2 linked regions of the Homo sapiens genome follow. The protein of the gene in region 2 interacts with the protein of the main gene of each other region in a pairwise test. Each region holds a gene or a part of one and is shown on either strand. Other genes may lie near its edges.

Region 1 (7,243 bases), on a different chromosome or scaffold from region 2:
GGGGTGTGCCTCTGGTTCCAGTTACTTGGGATGCTGAGGTAGGAGGATCACTTGAGCCTGGGGGATTGAGGCTACAGTGACCTGAGATCATGCCACTGCACTCTGGCCTGGAGGATAGAGCAAGACCCTGTCTCAAAAACAAACAAACAAATAAATAAAGCACCAACTTGGTCTCTTGGCACTGTCCTCTTTCCCAATACCTAAGGCTGGATGTACAACTGGCTGCAGGGTAAGCTCAGATCAAAAAGCCTCAAAAAAGTTTCAAAGCCAACTCAGAAACTCCATGTGCACCCCATCCTCCCCTGTCCCCACGTTCTCTTGATGAAAGCATCCCTGCTTGTGCGGGCACACGAAAGAAAACTTGGGTGTCATTTTGAACTGCTCCATCTTTTTGACTTCCACATAAATAATCAGTCACTAAATCCTGCTAATTCTAGCTAAACCTGCTTTTCACCTTCATCTCCTCTATGACTGATGTTTGCTAAACCTAATTATGGGAAAGGATTAACGCATTTAGGGTTGAGAAGGGAACTGGGTTTCAGACAGACATTGAGTAATACCCCTTGATACCCAGTCTGGCCAGACCTCTCCTCATGCTGTAATTCTCAAATGCAACCATACCTCATCTCTGCAAATTGAAGACTACAATATTCACATTATCATCAAAGCTCGCTGCATGATCAGGCTGTGGCTATCTTTTCTACAATCTCCCAGCAATGCCAGACTCATTCAAACATTGGGAGAGGCTTGCAAGGTTAAAACATGTTAGCTTTGGAGAGCGATGGCTCACGTGCTTGATTCAGCTGCTCTGAGGAAAATGGCATTTTTATTGTTATGTTAATAAAATTAACACAATCTGGCTGGGGATTTTCAATTAACCCCAAAACTCTAACCAACAGCCCAGCAAAAGCTATGCCATGGCAGGCCTTGTTACTCACCACGAGGCTGACTTTGCCTCTGTGGAGGTAGAGGTGGCCATCTACTGTGCAGTCATCCTCATTCTCTTCATTTAGGTTTTCTTTTCCGGTATCACTTCTTTCTCCCTAGCTGTGACCGTTCCTCTATCCCCCAATCCAGTGAATCTGGACGTGGTAGGTTTCAGTGTTTTCAGTCACAACTGCCACTTGGTTAGTTTTCACTCAGCATGGAAAGTTCCACTTCCCTTCCTTGCAGGTTCTTCAGTTTCATGTATATTTCCATGCCTCTTACAACTCAGGGAGAAACTATAACAGAGAATCCTAGCAGAAAAGTCAAATCCATTCCTCTGGTTTCCTAAGTATCACTGTGGCTGTCTGCAGAACCACCTCTTCAAGCTCCTCTCCAGGAAAGCCAAAAGTGGGAGATGCATGCTAGAGCTGGTGTTCTAAAGAAATTTCTAGCTTGTCTAGTTCAAACCCATCCTGAAGACTCTTATTAAACGTTTTGAAGTTTCCAGTTCAAACATCAGTGCCTTGGCTCTGAAATAAACACAAGGAATAGATATTTCAGCAACTCGTGAGAGAGCATGTGACCCAGCAGGATTAAACGAATGGTATATTTCAAAAGAGCTTTCTGTGAGGGTGACAATCATGCTTCAAAATCAAAGAGGGAGGCTTGCAGAGACTTCAGAGTAAGGGCTTTAGTTTCTCGAACAGTTAAGGGAAACACACCACAAGCTTCACGGAAGATAAAATCAAATGACAGGGTGAAAATGCTCTAGGTGTGGACAGCTATACAAATAAACCAGTTGCTGTGGTAATAATGGAACCCAAATTAAGGAACTGTCATCTTGACAGTCCAAAAGTAACCTGAACATGCAGAATTCCAGAGCAGGGCAAATTTCTAAAAAATGAAGAGAACTTTATCAAATGGCTTTCAAACTTCCACAAGAGAAAGACAGCTCAGTGTATCACGGAATTTCAGAGTCGGAAGGAACCCTGGCATCGTTTACTCTACTCTCCTGCACTCTTTTCCAAAAATTACCTTGGCTGTCTCTGCTTTACACCCTCCAGAGATGCGTGGTTCACTATGTTACATTTCTCCTTCCAACAAACTAAAATCTGCGTTCCAGATTTTACATCTGCCTCCCACTCGCTAGTCTGGATAACGCTCTGCAGGAAAACACAAAACAAGGTCTAATTCTTCCATGTGACAACCTCTTGGTCACTTCAAAACTATTGTCTAATTCTTACTGTCACTTTCTCCAAGCTTAATGCTTTAGCAACATGGTCTCAAATGTTTGCTCACCATTCTGCAATCTGTGGGTACACAATACAGTTTGTTAAAAGTCTCTAGAGACGACCCCCATTGAATATTTGACGGCCTGTAAAATCTCTATCTCTTCTCAGCTCTAGATATTTTGGATTGGGCCTCCACAGGACCACACTCATTGTATTCTATGGAGCATATTTGGGTGCCTGTGGAGGGGGTATCTCTGTTACTGGAACCAAGGACAGCAGCCTAAAACTCCCCATCCCTTGTTCCCAGAGGACTGGGCCCTACACTACCGAGGTCCTCTCTTATCTCTGAAAGGTCCAGAAGAGACCAATAATGGCCCTGGAGTAGGAAGAGACGTCGGAACATGAGCAGAAAAGGATCTGGTAGCCTGGGAAGTAATAGTAACAACGCGGGGCTGGGGCTGGTGATACTGCTGTGGGAAGGGGCCTCAGTGGGGCAGCAGGGCTGGAAAACGGACGCTAATGGCTGGAAAAGGGCCAGGAAGCTGCTGGGCGCAGCCCCCGGGGCGCAGGCAGCGACTGGTAACAGCACTAGGGCTGTGCGGTGTCTGGCCCCAGCTCTACGGGACTGGGAAATGGTGGGCGAACGCCTAAGGATTAGGCGGGGTCGGGTCACGCTCTAAGCTGGGGGCCCGCCCCTCGGTATCCCCGCGCTCCGAGCGCCGCCCACCCACCGGAGTAGCCAGGCATCCCAGTGCTCGGGGTTCGGGACTCTGGACCAGAAATGTGGGCAGCAGCTGGGTACCTGCGACTTCTGCCCCGTACCTGCGCGCGCGGCAGAGAGGCCTTAGGTCACGCGCCGCCCCGCCTACCTCCCCCTCCAGCTCCTGGCAAGCCGGCGCGCGGCGATGACGTGCCGAGTGCGCCGCACGCCGCTGACGTCAGAGACCAATGGCTGCGGCCGCAGCTGCGGCGCTGGAATCCTGGCAGGCGGCGGCTCCGCGGAAGAGGCGCTCCGCGGCTCGACGGCCGCGGCGGAGGGAGGCGGCGCCCCGGGGGAGAGAGGCGGCGCCCCGGGGGAGAGAGGCGGCGCCCCGGGGCCCCGAGGCGGAGTTCGAGTCTGACAGCGGAGTCGTGCTTCGTCGCATCTGGGAGGCTGAGTGAGTGCAGGCTCGGCCCTGATGGAATCTTTGCGCCCATGGGCAATTCTGAGCCACAGTCTCCCCATCTGTAGAGTGGAGATATAATGCACACCCTTTAAGGAGTTATTGTGAAGAGTTAACGTAGGTAACGAGCTCATTAAAGATGTGGATTATAGTAAGCGCTCAGTTAAAGGTCGTCTTTCCTTTTATTACGGTTACAGCTGCGTGACCTTGGACAATTTATAATCTCTGTGCCTCAGTTTTCTCATCTGTGAGATGGGGATGAAAATAGTACATACGTAGGTTTGTTTTGAGGATTCAATGAATTAGTAAACGGAAACCATTTTCTGGCACGTGGTAAGCACTGTGCCAGTGTTTGCTATTAATATTATGCCGATGTTGATATTATTGGTGGTGGTGACACGAGGGAAGCAACATGAACACGTGACTGCTATCATCAGGCAGCTGCTATGTGCCTGACATTAGCTTAATCATTCTACACACTTTATGTTAAACATTGCAGGCATACTAGGACCCTGGTAGCTCACTGATTCTCAAAGAGACAAAGAAAATGTGTGGAACCAGATTTCAAACCCAGGTCTTTGTGACAAAAACCAGTGCTTCCAGCTTTCCATTATGCTTGTTGCTTATCCCAGCCCAGATTCTCACATACCTTGCTCTGTACCTTAGAAAGTACATAGAGAGTGCCTAATACAGAGGAAACACTCAATAAATGTTACTTATTATTGTTATTTAGTATTATTATCTTTATTCGCAGTTTTGTTTAGGCTCAATAAATAACAGCTTTAGTTAGCACTTAAGATCAGCATCCGAAGGGCCGTCACAAGGGGAGAAATTAGATTAATTTTGTGTGCTCCTCTCCCCTAGAATTAGGGTCAAGAGGCAGTAATGTCCCAGAGTTTACCTCTGAAGAGAAAGTTGCTGACCATTTGGCTCAGCCTGAATAAAAAGCACCTGCGATTATTTTTAAGCTCTCAGAGGATGCCAGTGAGAGTGAATGTGCCTAGGGGTTTGGAAAACTCAAGGCATTTTTCATATCCCTTGACACTGTCACGATCTCCTCAACTGCTTCAGTATTCCCCAGGAGCTCCTTGCTTCTCCCAACACCCAAGTGTGGTGCAATCACCATCGCTCTGAGTAGAGATTGAGCCAGCATTTTACACGCATATCTGTGTACGCATTTACCAGTTCATAAAGCATTCCTGTGTACATCAGAACTCTCTACCCTCTGTGAGAAACGTGCAGCAGCCTCTGGGCCGACTTTCAATTCTCTGTACTCCTTTCTGAACCCCATAATCACTGTCTCTGGCTGTGGCTTGTCAGTTTAAATCCAGTTCATTTTAATTCACTGTTGACTTTCTTTTGCTCTGGGTCTGTAAAACCAGTTGACTTGAATAAAGAAAGCCCAGACACTTGGTTTTGTCTCTTTACTTTCCCCTTAAAACTATTTATAATAACAAATACCATTTGTTGAGTACCTGCTATGTGCCAGACACTGGGCTAAGAATGTTAACCCATTTTATGCCTCTAAACTCCTCCGTGTTGGGAATGATTTTTATCCCCATTTTAGAGATGAGGAAACTAAAGCTCAGAAAGGCTAATTCTGAGCACTTAACAACCATTTATTGAGCTGCAATTCTATGCTAGGCTCTGTTGTAGACTGAGAATAGACCCAGATCTCTCTCTGGGAATCAAGGACCTCCTCCAGCATACTCTCTCCTGCAGTCTCTGAGCCCCAGCAGTATGTGCTCTGGCTCTGGACATATTCAACATATATCCCCCTCCTATCACTTGGTAAGGGTGGGCCCTGCATTGCAGGGCACCTCATTCTGTAAGCATTCAGGTCATGATCAGGAAAGTTACTGTTGGGGCAGCCCTGAGATGGGTGGGACATGACTGTGCCATTTTTTTTCTCAACAGGAAGGACCTGTTTATCTCTGATTTCTGGAGTTCAGCACTAGGTGGGTACCACTTGGCCAATGGTAGGGATTGTGGGGCAGAAAAGAGAATCAGTCCTCATTTGAGGACATTTTGCTTCACAGAGGGATAACTTGCTGGGTTCTAACGCCGCCCGCCCCTTACAGCTGTATGTCTTTTGGCACTTAATTCTGATCCTCAGTTTCTTTATCTGTGAAATGGAGATAATGTGTATATCCTATAGTTTTGAGAATTGAAGCTGTTTAGTTAAATGCTTGCCTGCTGTATACAAGGCAATAAATGTTGTCATTATTATTGCTGAAATTTATATTTATCCTGTTCCTTTTCCATGATATTACAATGTAGCCTTTTCCTCGTGCAGTGATAATCTCTTCCTAAACATAGTGTGTGGGTGGCGACATAATATTTATGCATGGAGTGGACATACCATAGGTATCATTTTTATTGTGGGACATTTAGTTTTCTTCTGTTGTTTTTCAGTTATTATTTTAGGACAGTGTCTTACTCTTCGCCTAGGCTGGAGTACAATGATGCAATCATAGTTCACTGCAACCTGTACCTCCTGAGCTCAAGTGATCCTCCCACCTACAGCTTCCCAAAGCGCTGGGATTATAGGCATGAGCCACCACAACCAGCCTTTTTAAGTTATTATACATAATTTTGCAATGAGTAACTTTATGCATAAAGCTTTTACCAAACTTAGGATGATCTTCTTAGGATATATTCCCAGAAGTAGAATTAAATGAAAGGCGGTGACCAACTTGATATCTATTGTCAAGTTATCCAGAAAATTTTCACCAATTCTTTTATCAAAATTGACCTGAAGAGCCAGTTTTTCCTGGCTTGGGGTCTTGTTTAAAGATGTCTTTGCTGCTTTTTTTTTTTTTTTTTTTTCTTTTGAGACGGAGTCTCACTGTGTCACCCAGGCTGGAGTGTAGGGGTGTGATCTCTGCTCACTGCAATTTCCACCTCCTGGGTTCAAACAATCCTCCTGCCTCAGTCTCCTGAGTAGCTGGGACTACAGGTGTGTGCCACTACCCCTGGCTAATTTTTGTATTTTTGTAGAGATGGGGTTTCACCATGTTGGCCAGACTGGTCTCGAACTCCTGACCTCAAGTGATCTGCCCACCTCGGTCTCCCAAGGTACTGGGATTACAGGTGTGAGCCACCATGCCTGGCCCTTTGCTGGTATCTTAAGTGAAAAGTTGGTATCTTATTGGAATGCACGGCTTTTTTTGTTTTGCTAAATTCAGTACCAGTACAATAAAAGGAGAGACAAGAGAACCTACCTCTACATGAGAAGACTTAAACAGAGTATAACTTTATTTTATTTTTTTGAGATGGAGTCTTGCTCTGTTGCCCAGGCTGGAATGCAGCGGTGTGATCTCGGCTAACTGCAACCTCCACCTCCCTGGTTCAAGTGATTCTTCTGCTTCAGCCTCCCAAGTAGCTGGGACTACAGCTGTGCGCCAGTACGCCTGACTAATTTTTTGTATTTTTAGTAGAGATGGGGTTTTGCCATGTTGGCCAGGCTGGTCTTGAATTCCTGACCTCAGGCGATCCACTCACCTAGGCCTCCCAAAGTGCTAGGATTACAGGCGTGAGCACCTGGTTTGTTACAACTTTAAAAGTACGCATTTCAGAGCATAGTCTACATTTACTAGGAGGGTCTTGTTAAATTAGAATGAGTTCACATTAGAGTTTTAGATGGAAACTGCCCTTGAGTGAAACCCAATTTCTGCTTGCAACATGCTCTTGGGTTTTGGGAGTCCAGGGGCCGGGACAGTTTGTCAATTGGTGGTGAATGTGACTGTATGTCCAGGCATGTTTGGGAATGAGGCTGGCAGCTTCTCTCTCTCTCTGAAGAATTGAAACCTTTTACTGCCCTGATCTCTTTCTCCCCAAATATGTGAACTTCTTTTGTGGATGATTTGGTTCACAGGGTCAGAACATGCCCTCTAACTGCATTTGGGGGCCTGCTCTTTC
Region 2 (12,823 bases):
CACAATATAAAAAAAGATTTCCTTGGAATCAATAAGAAACAAAAATGAATGTTCCCCAACCCCCATAAGGGTCCATTCACTCAAGGAAAAATAAAAATGGCCAATGAATGTATAAACAATTACTCTCAAAAAATTAAATAAATGTAAATGACAGCATGAGATCATTTTTTCACCCATCAGACTGCACATATGGGGTTAAAAAGGAAGATAATAGTCCATACGTTTGGGTGTTGGAAAGATAGTCTTCCTCTTATTCTACTGGTGTTGATGTCATTTGGGATAAGTTTCTAGAGGCCAATTTGCCAGTATATATTAAAATTAATAAAAAATTCATAATCTTTGACCTAGAAATTTTACTAGTAGGAAATAAACAGAGGTGAGAGTTAAGATTGATATTAAGGAACTTCACTGATGCTTTATTTTATGAAAAGAAGGCAGCTGTAAAACAACCTAAATGTCTAGCAATAAGTGTTTTATTAAAAGTTTAGCAATATGGGTAATTGTGGTAAACCCTTCAATACAATATTATGCAAACAGCAAATATAATCTTAGAAGAATATATGTCTTAGAGAAAAGTTAAGTACTATAGATATATATTAAGTAAAAAAGATTACAGTGTGTGCAGTATCAAATCAATTTTAAAAATACATAAATATATTAAAATCTACACTAAAATGTTAAAATCTGCTTATCTCAGGTTAATAGGATTACATTACAGATGACTTTAATTTTTTAAATCTTGCTTTTCTATTTCTTTCATTACTTCATTTTTCTACGGTGGATGTGTATGGCTTTTGTAATCAGAAAAAAAGAACATTTTAAAGCATTTATCGGTCACTCTAAGTTTTCTAGCAGGGAACAAATGGAAAAAGAGAGAACTCAGAGGCTACTGGCACTTGTTCATCTATTAACAGACTCTATGTTGAGCAATATATTACAGGACACACCCTTGGATATGTCGTTTCTAAGGCAGCCAGGAACAACGTAAGAGAAAAGAGATGATATGAGCCTGTTTCTTGCTTCCTCATGAATGCACCACAGGAAAGTGTGATTTGTATTTTTACTCTAATCAATATAGCTAATGTTGAATTAAGAGCTATTTCTTTCATTAAGGCAGCATTTCCCAATTCTTTTTATCAATCAGTTAACTAGATGTGGCACAGCTTGGCAGGTCTGATTAAAATTCAGGAGTGTTATAGTGAGACCATTATACATTTACCCATAGTTCATACAGCACGAAAGGAACTGACAGATTACTTAAAAATACACATGCTTGCACACACAAAACCCACTGTTTAAAAAGACATTTATATATAACTGAATCATCATTCTCTGTGTTTCCTTGGAGAAGGCAAAGAGATTTATGAAGACACAAAGATCACTGCAGCAGTTTCTATATGACTACAGGTGACGACGCCACATCTTGAGCTGTGAAGATGCTTATTTTCACTGGGAAAATATTAAGTAACTTCTTGCCCCCTTAAAAAAAAACCCTTTCACACATTATTACCACTACCATCACTAGCAGAATAAGAGATCCTTGCTCACCAGTTTTGGCAAGCATATCAGTAAGAAGGCATTTAATAATTTTTCCTTTATTCCATAAACATGCCTAGCTTTTGTCATTATCCCTTCCTTCTCTTAAAGAGAAAGTAGTAAAGAATGAGAGCTCTTTTGGTGATGGAAACTTGAGGAAATTAAAATGACCAGTTTGGAAAAAGAAAACATTAGTGAATATCCCAAATCATGCACATTAACGTTTTATCAAAAGGTGTATGCTATGCTCTGAATCTTTTTGTCCCCCTCCAAAATTCATAGGTTGAAATCCTAACCCCCCAAGGTTATGGCATTATAAGGAGATGGGGCCTTTGGAAGGTGATTAGGTCACAAGGGTGAAGCCCTCATAAATGGGATTAGTGTCCTTATAAAAGAGGCCCAGGAGAAACCCCTTCCCCCTTCCACAGAGCTGGAAGGTGCCATCTGTGAACCAGAAATCAAGACCTCACCAGACCCTGAATGTGCGGATGCCTTGATTTTGGACTTCCTAGCCTCCAGAGCTGAGAAATGAAATTCTGTAGTTTATAGCCTACCAAGCTTATGGTATTTTGTTAGGGCAGCCCAAATGGGCTAAGACAGTATATTACAGTTTATCTGCCCTAAAATCAAGTGTAAGAAAAACACTGCACTGTAGTAAATTTTACATTTCCACAGCAAAGAGAGAAAAAAAGTGAAATGATTATCTAGATCACTGAGGAAAAAAAATTGCTGCAAGATCTACTTTGGGTAATTCAAATGAAAGTAGAGATGTCCATCCCACCTCCCAGCTTGAAATTACTCAAATTGATACCTCGATTTTCCAGTGTGTTTTAAAACTACAGTTACAAGATGGAAGACAAATTATGTATTCCACACCTTCCTGTTTCTGGAAGGACTATCGCCAAACCATTTCCAAAAAATGAGACCGTACTGTTTCTTAAGACATCATGAGGAGATTTCCCACTGGGTTATGAATGAGGCAGAAAAACATTAAAGACAGGAAGTTGGCATTCTGTTTTTAAAATATCAGTTATGGGCCCCGGTGCATTGGCTCACACCTGTAATCCCAGAACTTTGGGAGGCCAGGTGGGTGGATCACTTGAGGCCAGGAGTTCAAGACCAGCCTGGCCAACATGGTGAAGCCCTGTCTCTACAACAAATACAAAAATTAGCCAGGTGTGGTGGCGGGCGCCTGTAATCCCAGCTATTAGGGAGGCTGAGGCATGAGAATCGCTTGAGTCCGGGAGGCCGAGGTTGCAGTTAGCCAAGATCAGGCCACTGCACTCCAGCCTGGGCAACAGAGCAAGACCCTGTCTCAAACACACACACACACACACACACACACACACATACACACACACACACACACACACACACACACAAAGTTAGCTGGGCATGCTGGTGCATGCCTGTAATCCCAGCTACTCAGGAGGCTGAGGTGGAAGGACTGCTTAAGTTCAGGAGGTGGAGGTTGCAGTGAGCCAAGATCAGGCCACTACACTCTAGCCTGGGCAAAAGAGCGAGACCCTGTCTCAAAAAAAAAAATAATCAGTTACAAATGAGCAAATCCTTATTAAGTGGCTTATAAATCTATGACTTTCTATATTCTAAAAGTTGCATCATTATAGACTAGTCAAAATGATTTGGGGTGCTGCATTTGAAGCATGGTCTGATAATGTGTTAAATTATAATCCTCAGAGATGGAAATGGTACATGTGGCAAAAAAAAAAAAAAAAAATCTGTTTCCCAACAAATTCCCCACCCCCAATTTCAACTGCCCAAAGTTGCAACAGGCAAAAGTAGACAGAGAGAAGAGAGTGAAATCTGTGGCAGATGGAATCAATGTAATGAAACTATATATGCTGTGGAAAGATTTGTGTCCATAATTTTAAAACCGCCATTATGTATATTCAAGCCATTGGGTGCTAATGTATCTTTAAAATCCAATATGTGAGAGGCAAGAGAACAGAATATTTAACAAAATTATTCTTTGCTTTTCTTATTTGTTTCACCTATATTTTCATGTTTTCCTAAGGTCTGGACAATTCACCAGTCAGGAAAATAAAGGGAATATGTCTACTCTGTTTATATTTTTTGATGGTTTAACATTTATCTTATTTTTTATGCAACGTTGTTTATTATAATATTTTTTCTTTTATTTGTATAAATTTAGGGGGCACAAGTGCAGTTTTGTTATATGGGTATATTGCAGATTGAAATCTGGGCTTTTAGTGTACCCATCACCAGAATAGTGTACATTGTATCCATTAAGTAATGGTTTTAAATTATAATAAAGAAATAAAGTGGAAAGTTAAGATTCAATTTCCAGTCCCAATACACGTCATGCATTAGAAAGTGGTTAAACCCATGAGTTTGAGGCTGCTATGAGCCATGATTGCGCCACTGCACTCCAGCCTGAGCAATGGAGGGACCCTGTCTCTAATAACTAAATAAATAGAAAGAAAGTGGTATAAAATAAAAAGGACCTCCCTGCCCCAATCTTTAGAGTTTGCTTCACAATCAGTATAGAAATATCTGATCACTAGATAGTGGCTGCTTGGAGTACCACATGAAACATGATCCAGAGGCCACATCCAGTGCAGCCTGAAAGAGTGACTTGATTAATAAGTACTGTCCATCACACCCACCAATTTCTCAAAAAGAGAAAGGGAGGGAATAAACACAAACATTGTGTGCTGGTTATTCAAAATGCACTTTTTATTCACTTTAACACAGATGATTTTTTACAGTTGAAAGAAAATATTTGATACACAATTTTGAGTTTTTTTTAGCAGCACCTGCAACAAGAGGATTGTGGAATACCTCAGAATAAAGTAGAGATGGCTGGGGCAGGCACAAATTAACCTGATATTCATCAATCCACTGAAGACATATGGAATCTGAGGCCCCTGAAAGTTAGCCAATACATGACAATAAACTAAATAAATATTCTGTATGATGTTTTAACAGACCATTGAAAAACAGTATAGTCCTAATTAGAAATATATTATTCCAAAAATCTAGTGTTCTTTAAAAAAACACCTATTGAAAATATTACACTGCACATTCTAGGGTACACAGTCAATTTCTAAACCTATATGCACAGTTCTTGGTACTCACAGATTTCAGCCTTTGGTGTTTTTTAATCTTACCCAAACTGTATGTCAGCACCCCACTGAGTGTTGCTTACCCAAATGCCACTGTTTATGTCACTTAATGTTGAGTGCTTTCATTAAGATATTGAGTGGTAATTTGGTAGAAAACAATGGTATGGCTAAGAGGAAAGGGGCTCCAGCTGATGGGCCAATAAAATTAACACTTGTCTTAGATGGACAGGATGCCTATGAATCCGATACCCATGTAATTTTTTTTTTTTTACTCAAATGACCACATGCCACTCTAATAGAGACAAATACTTTTGTGAGTTGATAGAGGTCTTTATGATGAAGGCCTGAGATCTACAAATAGAAACTAGTATAAGCAGAGTGCAAGTAGAAAGAGAAGGCCCCAGGTCTCATGCACTTAAAAATAATTAGCATTTAACAGTTCTGACGTACAGATTTTCACCCTAACATGATTGTAGCAAAATGATCACAGAACTTGGAAACCAGTGTGGCTGGCTATAGGCATAGGCAGGATAGGGACCAGTACTTAAGAGCTGTGGGGTCCCAGTTCTGGCTTTGACTTCTGGCGTCAAAGTTAATTGAACAATGGTGTCAGGATTATATCTTAATTGGAAATATTGAGTATGACTGAGTTGAAATACTGTCCTCTTCTTTTCTATTTGGCCAATATGTCCCAGAGCTCTTAAAGCACAAAGGTCCTACATGTAAGTAAGGCTGATTCCATACGTGGCTACAATGGAGAGTTCTAGGCTGTATTCCTATGAAAGCTCCCACCCCCTTCCTGGCCTAGGTCTCTTTTTGGGGTAATTTCTGTCTGTCACTATTTTTATCATAGATGTTTTAAAGTACAGATTAAAATCTATGCAGGGTAAACAGATCAACCAACAAGAACCACACTGCATATTCATAATATAGTATATAACTGACAGTCATGGTAATCAAAAATTGTCAAACCATTTTTATATTTTAACATGGGAGCTTTAAGATGTTTTTTATCAGTCACATAAAGATTACTCAGAGCTCAAGAATTTTTCCTGCCACAGTGCAAAAGCAAAAGGAAGAGCTATGTAGTTGCTGTTAAAGATTGATCACAGAATGGTTTGAGAATTTTTAAAGTCCCTCTCCATAGTCTTAGCTGTTATCATCAGATAAATCTAACCACAGCATGGCACTGATGTAGTTTATATATTCATAGAACTTAGAGCCAGAAAGGACTTTATATTGAACATGTAGCCAGCACAGAAAATCTTTTTATGGTATTCTAACAGATGGTCATCCAGTGAATATTTTCAGAGGCAGGGAGCTCACTATTAAGGCAGTCCATTCCACTGTTGGACAACTCTGTTTATGGGAAATTCATTCTAACACTGGGTTAAGATCTGCTCTTCTGTCACTTTCAATGTCCTAATTAGGCTAGTTGAACATACAGTGCAACATATAAGAAACCAGTTCCTTCTTCTGCAATAAATATTTGAGTTAAGGAGCCTTGTGAGAAAAGTTCATTATCCCCCAATCTTTTATGAAGCCTTCTCCATGAGCCCAGCATGTTGGATCAAAGGACCATCTAAATGATGAGCAGAGAGCACTGCATCCAAATTCATATACTAAGCAGCATTGCTAAATTGGTAAGAGGTTGTCAGAGAAGCAACATCTCTATGCAGCAAAAGTAGACTTAGGAATTAAAAGCAGACCAACCATTTATTTGCAAAGGTGGTTGGCATATTTAAGCATAATCCATTCACTAGTATCCTATGACTTCAAACACAAGAAGTATAATCAATTGCCAGTGTCATTAGAGTATCTCTTATTGAGATGGGATTTTTTGAAAAGCTCAGATGGGAGCGAACCATACATAAGGATTTAAACAAGTCAGTGTATATCATTATACTTTTGCACTCCTAATCATTACAACTTCTTTAATTCAAGCCTAGGAATCCTTATTTGCATTATTATTTTTATTGTAATACAGCTCAAAGTCTGATTTTTTTCCCCTTTGGCAGAAATGTCAGAAACTGCTTGGCAAGAGTCTGATAGTGACATTTGTTAGTTGATTAATGGAACACTTTAAGAAATAGTTGTAGCTCTTTAACTCCTTCATGCAGCTGGGTTCTAGGTTTAAACTGTGATTTAAAAAATATTTAACTGTCTCAGGACTAAAATTTTCTGATATGTCCTGAGACACACAAGAAGGGGAAATAGCAGAAATCACGCAAAATACACTTGGCTTGATAGAGCTTCATTTTTTTTAATTTTTAATTTTTTTAAATCAATCTACACTTCAATTTGAAAGGCTCTGTTTCACAATCAGAACCTTGTCTCTTACCCTCTTGTGTGCGTGTGTGTGCACTCTTAGAGGGGCACAGTTATTCTTACACTACTGACTGATCAATTTGGGGCACATTTTTAAAAGGCTCCCTATCTTTAACAGCACGAAGACCCTGCTTTGGAGCCACTGTTCAAGTCAATGGTGTGACCCAACATGCAATGCTCCAGCTGTTCCTCTACAGCCAGCACCTGCCTGACAGCTTCTTCAAAGGCCACTGTCACATTAGTATCATCTTTGGCACTAGTTTCTAAATAAGGGTAATCCCCATTCTCCATGCACCAGGTTTGTGCCTCCTCAGTAGTCACTTGCCTATCCTCTTTGTCTACCTTGTTACCCAGAACTACAAAGGGGAAATGCTCAGGGTCCTTCACATCCGCATAGTAAATAAATTCTTTCTGCCAGTTACCAAGATTCTCGAAGCTCTGCCGATCATCCACGCTGAAGGTCAAGAGGCAGCAGTCTGCTCCCCTGTAGAAGGGTGTCCTAAGGCTCTTGAAACGTTCCTGCCCTGCAGTGTCCCAGATCTGGAGGGTTACAAAGCGTCCATCTACCTCCAGATCTCGATTTAAGAACTCTACCCCTATGGTGTGAAAAGCCTGGGAGTCAAATTTGTTGGTTACGTAACGGTTCATAAGCGAACTTTTCCCAACTCCACCATCACCCAAGAGAATGACCTTTAAGAGCAGGGATTTCCCACTCATTTTTGCAGCACCAGAAGGGAAGGAGTTTGTAACCAAGAGAACCTGAAAATAAAAGGAAAAGTAGGAGGGAAAACAGTTAAACCTGAAACTGAAATCAACTTCATAGCAAATTTCTCTGAATTATAAGGCCTTCTCATTCAACTTCTCTGATTTATGCTCATTAATTGATGTAGTACAGCAGAAGAAATAACACTAATTTTGCATAAGGGGAAAAATAGGTCTTGTTTTTCTGAGGTCTTTTGTTGTGCCAGGAAAATGGCTGAGTGCCATGGGTAAATGGACTAGCAGATGGTCCTGTAATTTGGTTCAGTTCTGACCCAATTCTAGGAGAGGAAGCCTAGAACAGGAATGCCACTCAAATGTGTGACAACTTTAGCTTCCGGTTTGGACAGTTCCAAACAATAGACAAATAGTATGAAATTGACTTGGGGTTTGAAGTCTGCTCCTGATGGATACAAAAATTACTGAGAAGAGAAAGCTACATAAACTGGATTCTTGATTCTGTCGGTAGAGGTCTGGGCCAGAATTAGACTGCACCCCAGAATTTGAAAGAGAGAACAAGGTTACGTTTCTTCAGGCATTTACCCCATTATACTTGCATTGATAGGAACACCCTCTCAAGTAAGGATCTTCTATATTTTTTTCTTCATGGAACAATGGCATTTAAGTTGATGACAATTGACTGATATCAATATAACAGCTGTCATGAAGGAAGGAAATCTTGAATAGCTTATTAGTTTTTGGATTCAGGTTTTAATTCCATAATAGCAACATTTGAAAACATACTGCAAAATTTAAAGTGCTAATATTTATACAGTACCCTACTTGTTACCTCCACAACATGTCTACACATGGAACACCTAGAATGTGTCTTAAAATAAAAAGATCAAATGCTTACTGAACAAATACTACCTTTTCCTATATTCTGTTAGGTACTTTCCCACTAGGTCTATTGTGGGAACTCAACGGTGATGAGGTTAATTGGATGATATTTATACAATAGACCCAAAGGGATGAAAACGAATCACTAATCGAAGGAGTGCATGCAAAACAGTTTCTGGAAGCACACACATTTGAATATAATTTTACAAAATTTAGTAGCCCTTAAAATGATTTTGGAATGCCTATGTACTAGCTATATATTTTTCTAAATATTCATTTTTAAGAGATCAAATATTAAAATATCCCAAATCCACAGTGTGCCCCCTTGAAATACCTACCCAGTGGGTTTTTGTCACAATTTAAATATTTTCCTTTTTTTCCTGTTGTTGTTTTATTCTTTCTTTTTAGGGTGCTATAAAACAGAATAGAAAACATTATTTTAAAAAAATCTATAATAAAATAACGTTAAGGCTCTATATAAAAATATATTCAAGTCAGAAAAAAAAAAAGAACCCACAGCAACCTCAAGTAACCTACAGAGGGTGCTTTTCAAAAATAAAAGTTCAAAATGCTACCTATGCTTAACATAAGCAAAATAATTTTATTCCAAGAACTTTAACTTATCCTAATTTGTAATTTATATAATTTTTTACATTTTATATTGTCTCTCAATTGAATTCTCCATTCAAAGTAAAAGCAAATTAAAGAAAGATGATATTCACAATAGATGACATTCAGGAAAAGGAAAGTACAGAGCAATCTAAGATATGCTGAAATCCTAAGTCGGAGATGAAACTTCTTCCTTTTATACCTACCAACGTTCCCATCTCCAAGAAAGTTGTTAGTGCACTCACCAGTCTGTCTCAAGGTTGTCTCTGCAATTGATTCCACATAATTAGAGAGCAGAAAAAAATTGTGTTTGTGGGCTTCCTGTTTACAATAAAGTATATTATCTTGGCTAATTATTTTATTAATTAGTTTAGGTCATTTTTCTTTTCTTTATTTATTTTTTAAATTTGAGACAAGGTCTCATTCTGTCACCCAGGCTGGAGTGCAGTGGTGCAGTCATGGCTCACTGCAGCCTCGACCTCCTGGGCTCAAGTAATCTTCCCACCTCAGCCTTCTGAGTAGCTGGGACTACGGGCATGCACCACCATGCCCGGCTAAGTTTTGTAGTTTTTGTAGAGATGGGGTTTCACCATGTTGCCCAGGTTGGTTTCAAACTCCTGGGTTCAAACGATCTGCCCACCTCATGTTCCCAAAGTGCTGGGTTCACAGGCGTGAGCCGCTGTACCTGGCAGTTCATCTGTCTTAAACACCAGTTTTAATATTTAGCTGGTGTTATTAAATTTAAATATACATTCATCTAATATTATAATTAATTATGGCAAGAATCTTATTTAAGCAGCATCAAGAGTACTGGTTTAAGAAGAAAAACAGTGCCTAGATCTGTGTAGTGTTATTTCTTACTGAGGAAGAACGAAGCTTTAAAAAAAAATCTGCTGCTTAATAATCACATGTTATTTTCTAAATATAGATAAAACTTATAATAAGGATTCATTAGATATCTAAATCAGTAATTATGAATTTAAATAATATCTCCTAAATGGATAGGCTTTATCCTCCTTCTTGGTTTATATACACTCTACAGAATTCTCAAGTTTCCTACAATTCCTAATTTTTGTCCTCTTTTTCCTGCTCCCAAATTGCTGTCTTTGGAATTAGCTCAAGTAACAAACATTTCTTTAAATGGAGATGAAACAAGTGTTAGCACACTTTTTTATTTTTTTATACTGGTCTGTAGGATAATTTTACAGAGCAAAACTCTTGAACTCTCATTTTGAAAAGCAACAGAAGTACAAACTTGGGCATGATTCTGATGGCTAGTATTAAGCGTCCAGGCCACACAAGCTTCCTTGAGTTCCTAGCAAACAGGCGTTCACATCATTAAAAGACTCACTGACCCTATTCTCCCAGTTGCAGATAAACTCAATAGACAGGTCAAGGACTGAGTGAATATGGAAACCAAATGCTCAGCTCCAGGAATAATGATGATGTATTAATAACTGTCTGAGATAATGCTGCAGTTGCTTGTGCATTCCCTATTTGGTTATGTGCACACATAACTTCTGGGCCTATAGGCTCTATGCCAAGGGAAAAAGAGGAAAAGCAATGTGGTTCAGTGTCAAGAGCACTGAGCTAGCTGGCAGTAATCAGGACACCAGGGTCTTCATCACTGTTACACCATTCATTTATTTTATGAACTTGGGCAGGTCATTTAATCTTTCTGTTTCAGTATCTTCTTACATAAAAATAGAGCAGATAATACCTGCCCTACTTAACAGGATTTTGGGGGAGAATGAAAAGCTTATGAAGTTTGCAAAGATTTGTAAGCATTTTTTGAAAAATTTGGTTTGAGATTTTTATTCCTCTGGCTCCTCCACCTCCTTTCATGCACTGGTGGGGGCCTTGTGGCTCAGTATTAACCCTTCTCAGAAAGGGCCTGCTAGTGAAAGTATAAGAATTCTTCCTTTTCTCTTTCTTCCATATTTGAGAATGCCTTGTTCCTCAACAAGCTTGAACATCTGCATATGGCACAGAATCTCAGCATTGAAGGGACCTTCAGGGTCTTCTGGTCCAATCTTGCTACTGATATTTGAGAAAACACTACAGTGCCTATTGTGTGTTGTGTCCTTACTAAGGAAACCCTCCACTCTCCTCTGCTGTCTCCAACTCCCATTTATTTTCTAGAAGTAAAAATGAATACAGTTTAGATTTGTCTCCTTGCCTTCATTCAATCCTGCTGATTTTCCCTTGAAGTATCATTTTCTAGTCCTGTGCTACCATCCTCATTTTGGCCCACAATTTCTCACATCTAATCTATTGTGAAAGTTCTTCTCTCCCTGCTTCTGGTGTCTCCCCACTCAATCTACTTTGCAAAGCTTCATCACTCAAACATCCATTGGATGTAGATACTGTTGGGAATTAATAAATGTTTAAGGCAAGGTCTTGCCCTCAGGGAGTTTACAAATTAACATGCAAGCTCAGGATCTCATTGTTTACAGTTGAAATAATGTCATTATACTGACTTATTTTGTTAACAAACTTTTCCTGTCTTTCTTACATGATCAATTTTAAATTCCTAGATAGTAAGCTCACTGTATACATCTTTGAAGCCCCTTCAGTGTGCAGCACCAGGATCCTCCATGGAGATAATAAATATTTGTTTACCAATTAAATGATTAGGTAGGTGCCCAGAATTAATGCCTCTGAATTGATGCCAAGGTACAATAGATCCATAGTTCTGTAAGATGCCAAAATACTATTATTTATAAGGTAACTAAAGAGCAGAAGTTATGAACTTGACTCGATCATTTTCTGGATGGGGAGTAATGGGAATTCCACCTGTTGAAAGTCAAGGGAAATGCTCCAGTTTTCCTCCCCCTACTCTCACATTTTAAAAATAAGTATATACATTTCCCCATTCCTACCCAAAACAAGAGCAGAATAATGATATCCAGTTGATGTTGTCGGTGGGTGCTGGCCTCTCCACAATCATTTATCATTGTTTGAAAATGAATGTCATGTCCTTTAGTACATACTTAAATTAAAAAGAACTAGCACAGTGTAAAAGCAAATGAAATCATTTTTTCCTCCCCCAGAATATGCCGGATTTAATCCAAACCTTTAAACAAGGTAACATTAAGCAGGCAAATGAATTCTTTGATAACACTAAATACGTAAATAGGAAAGTCAAATGACGTATGCATCCCTTATGGGTCCTCTGTCGGGCGAGCATTTGGACCAAAACGCTTATTCTGATTTTGATCCCATTCAGAGAAAGATCTGACTCTAACTGAGTAAAATATTCGAGAGACGCAATTCCCCTTTCCTACCCCCACAAACTCATTAATGAGCATGCTCTAAGGATAGTTTACTAACTTTTTTTTTTCCCATCAGGGTCTCAGTCTTGGAGAGTAAGGTGAATTAGGAATTTCCATAACCAATACTCCCCAGCTCTTTGTTCTTTAACACACTTGAAACCTTCTGAATCTGCAGTACCCACAAAGCCTTATTCAAATTATTGTATTTAGTTGGGAATGCTTAGAGGTGGGAGTGGAGGTGGGGGAGGAGGCAGTACAATGAAGAAAAAGAAGTTGAACCTTTGAAAATAGTACATTTTAGTATGATGATGGAGAGAAGAGAGGCAGAAAAGCAAATTCGCATCAGTTCAGTTGCCATGGAGTGGAATG

Evidence for each region.
Region 1: the proteins of RAB9B (region 2) and HPS4 interact in a two-hybrid assay, tested with the Homo sapiens proteins (one study listed by IntAct).

Annotation. Positions count from the first base shown.
Region 1 is NC_000022.11:26,480,784-26,488,026, forward strand, and holds the start of HPS4 (BLOC-3 complex member HPS4), read right to left. Parts: upstream 3,001-7,243; 5' UTR 2,891-3,000; intron 2,091-2,890; exon of another isoform or gene 1,963-2,090; intron 1,458-1,962; 5' UTR 980-1,457; coding exon 939-979; intron 1-938. Other genes in the region: SRRD (SRR1-like protein), read left to right, coding at 3,108-3,316, 5,240-5,280.
Region 2 is NC_000023.11:103,818,097-103,830,919, forward strand, and holds the end of RAB9B (ras-related protein Rab-9B), read right to left. Parts: intron 8,983-12,823; 5' UTR 8,909-8,982; intron 7,731-8,908; 5' UTR 7,689-7,730; coding exon 7,083-7,688; 3' UTR 4,231-7,082; downstream 1-4,230. UniProt on the Homo sapiens protein: The small GTPases Rab are key regulators of intracellular membrane trafficking, from the formation of transport vesicles to their fusion with membranes.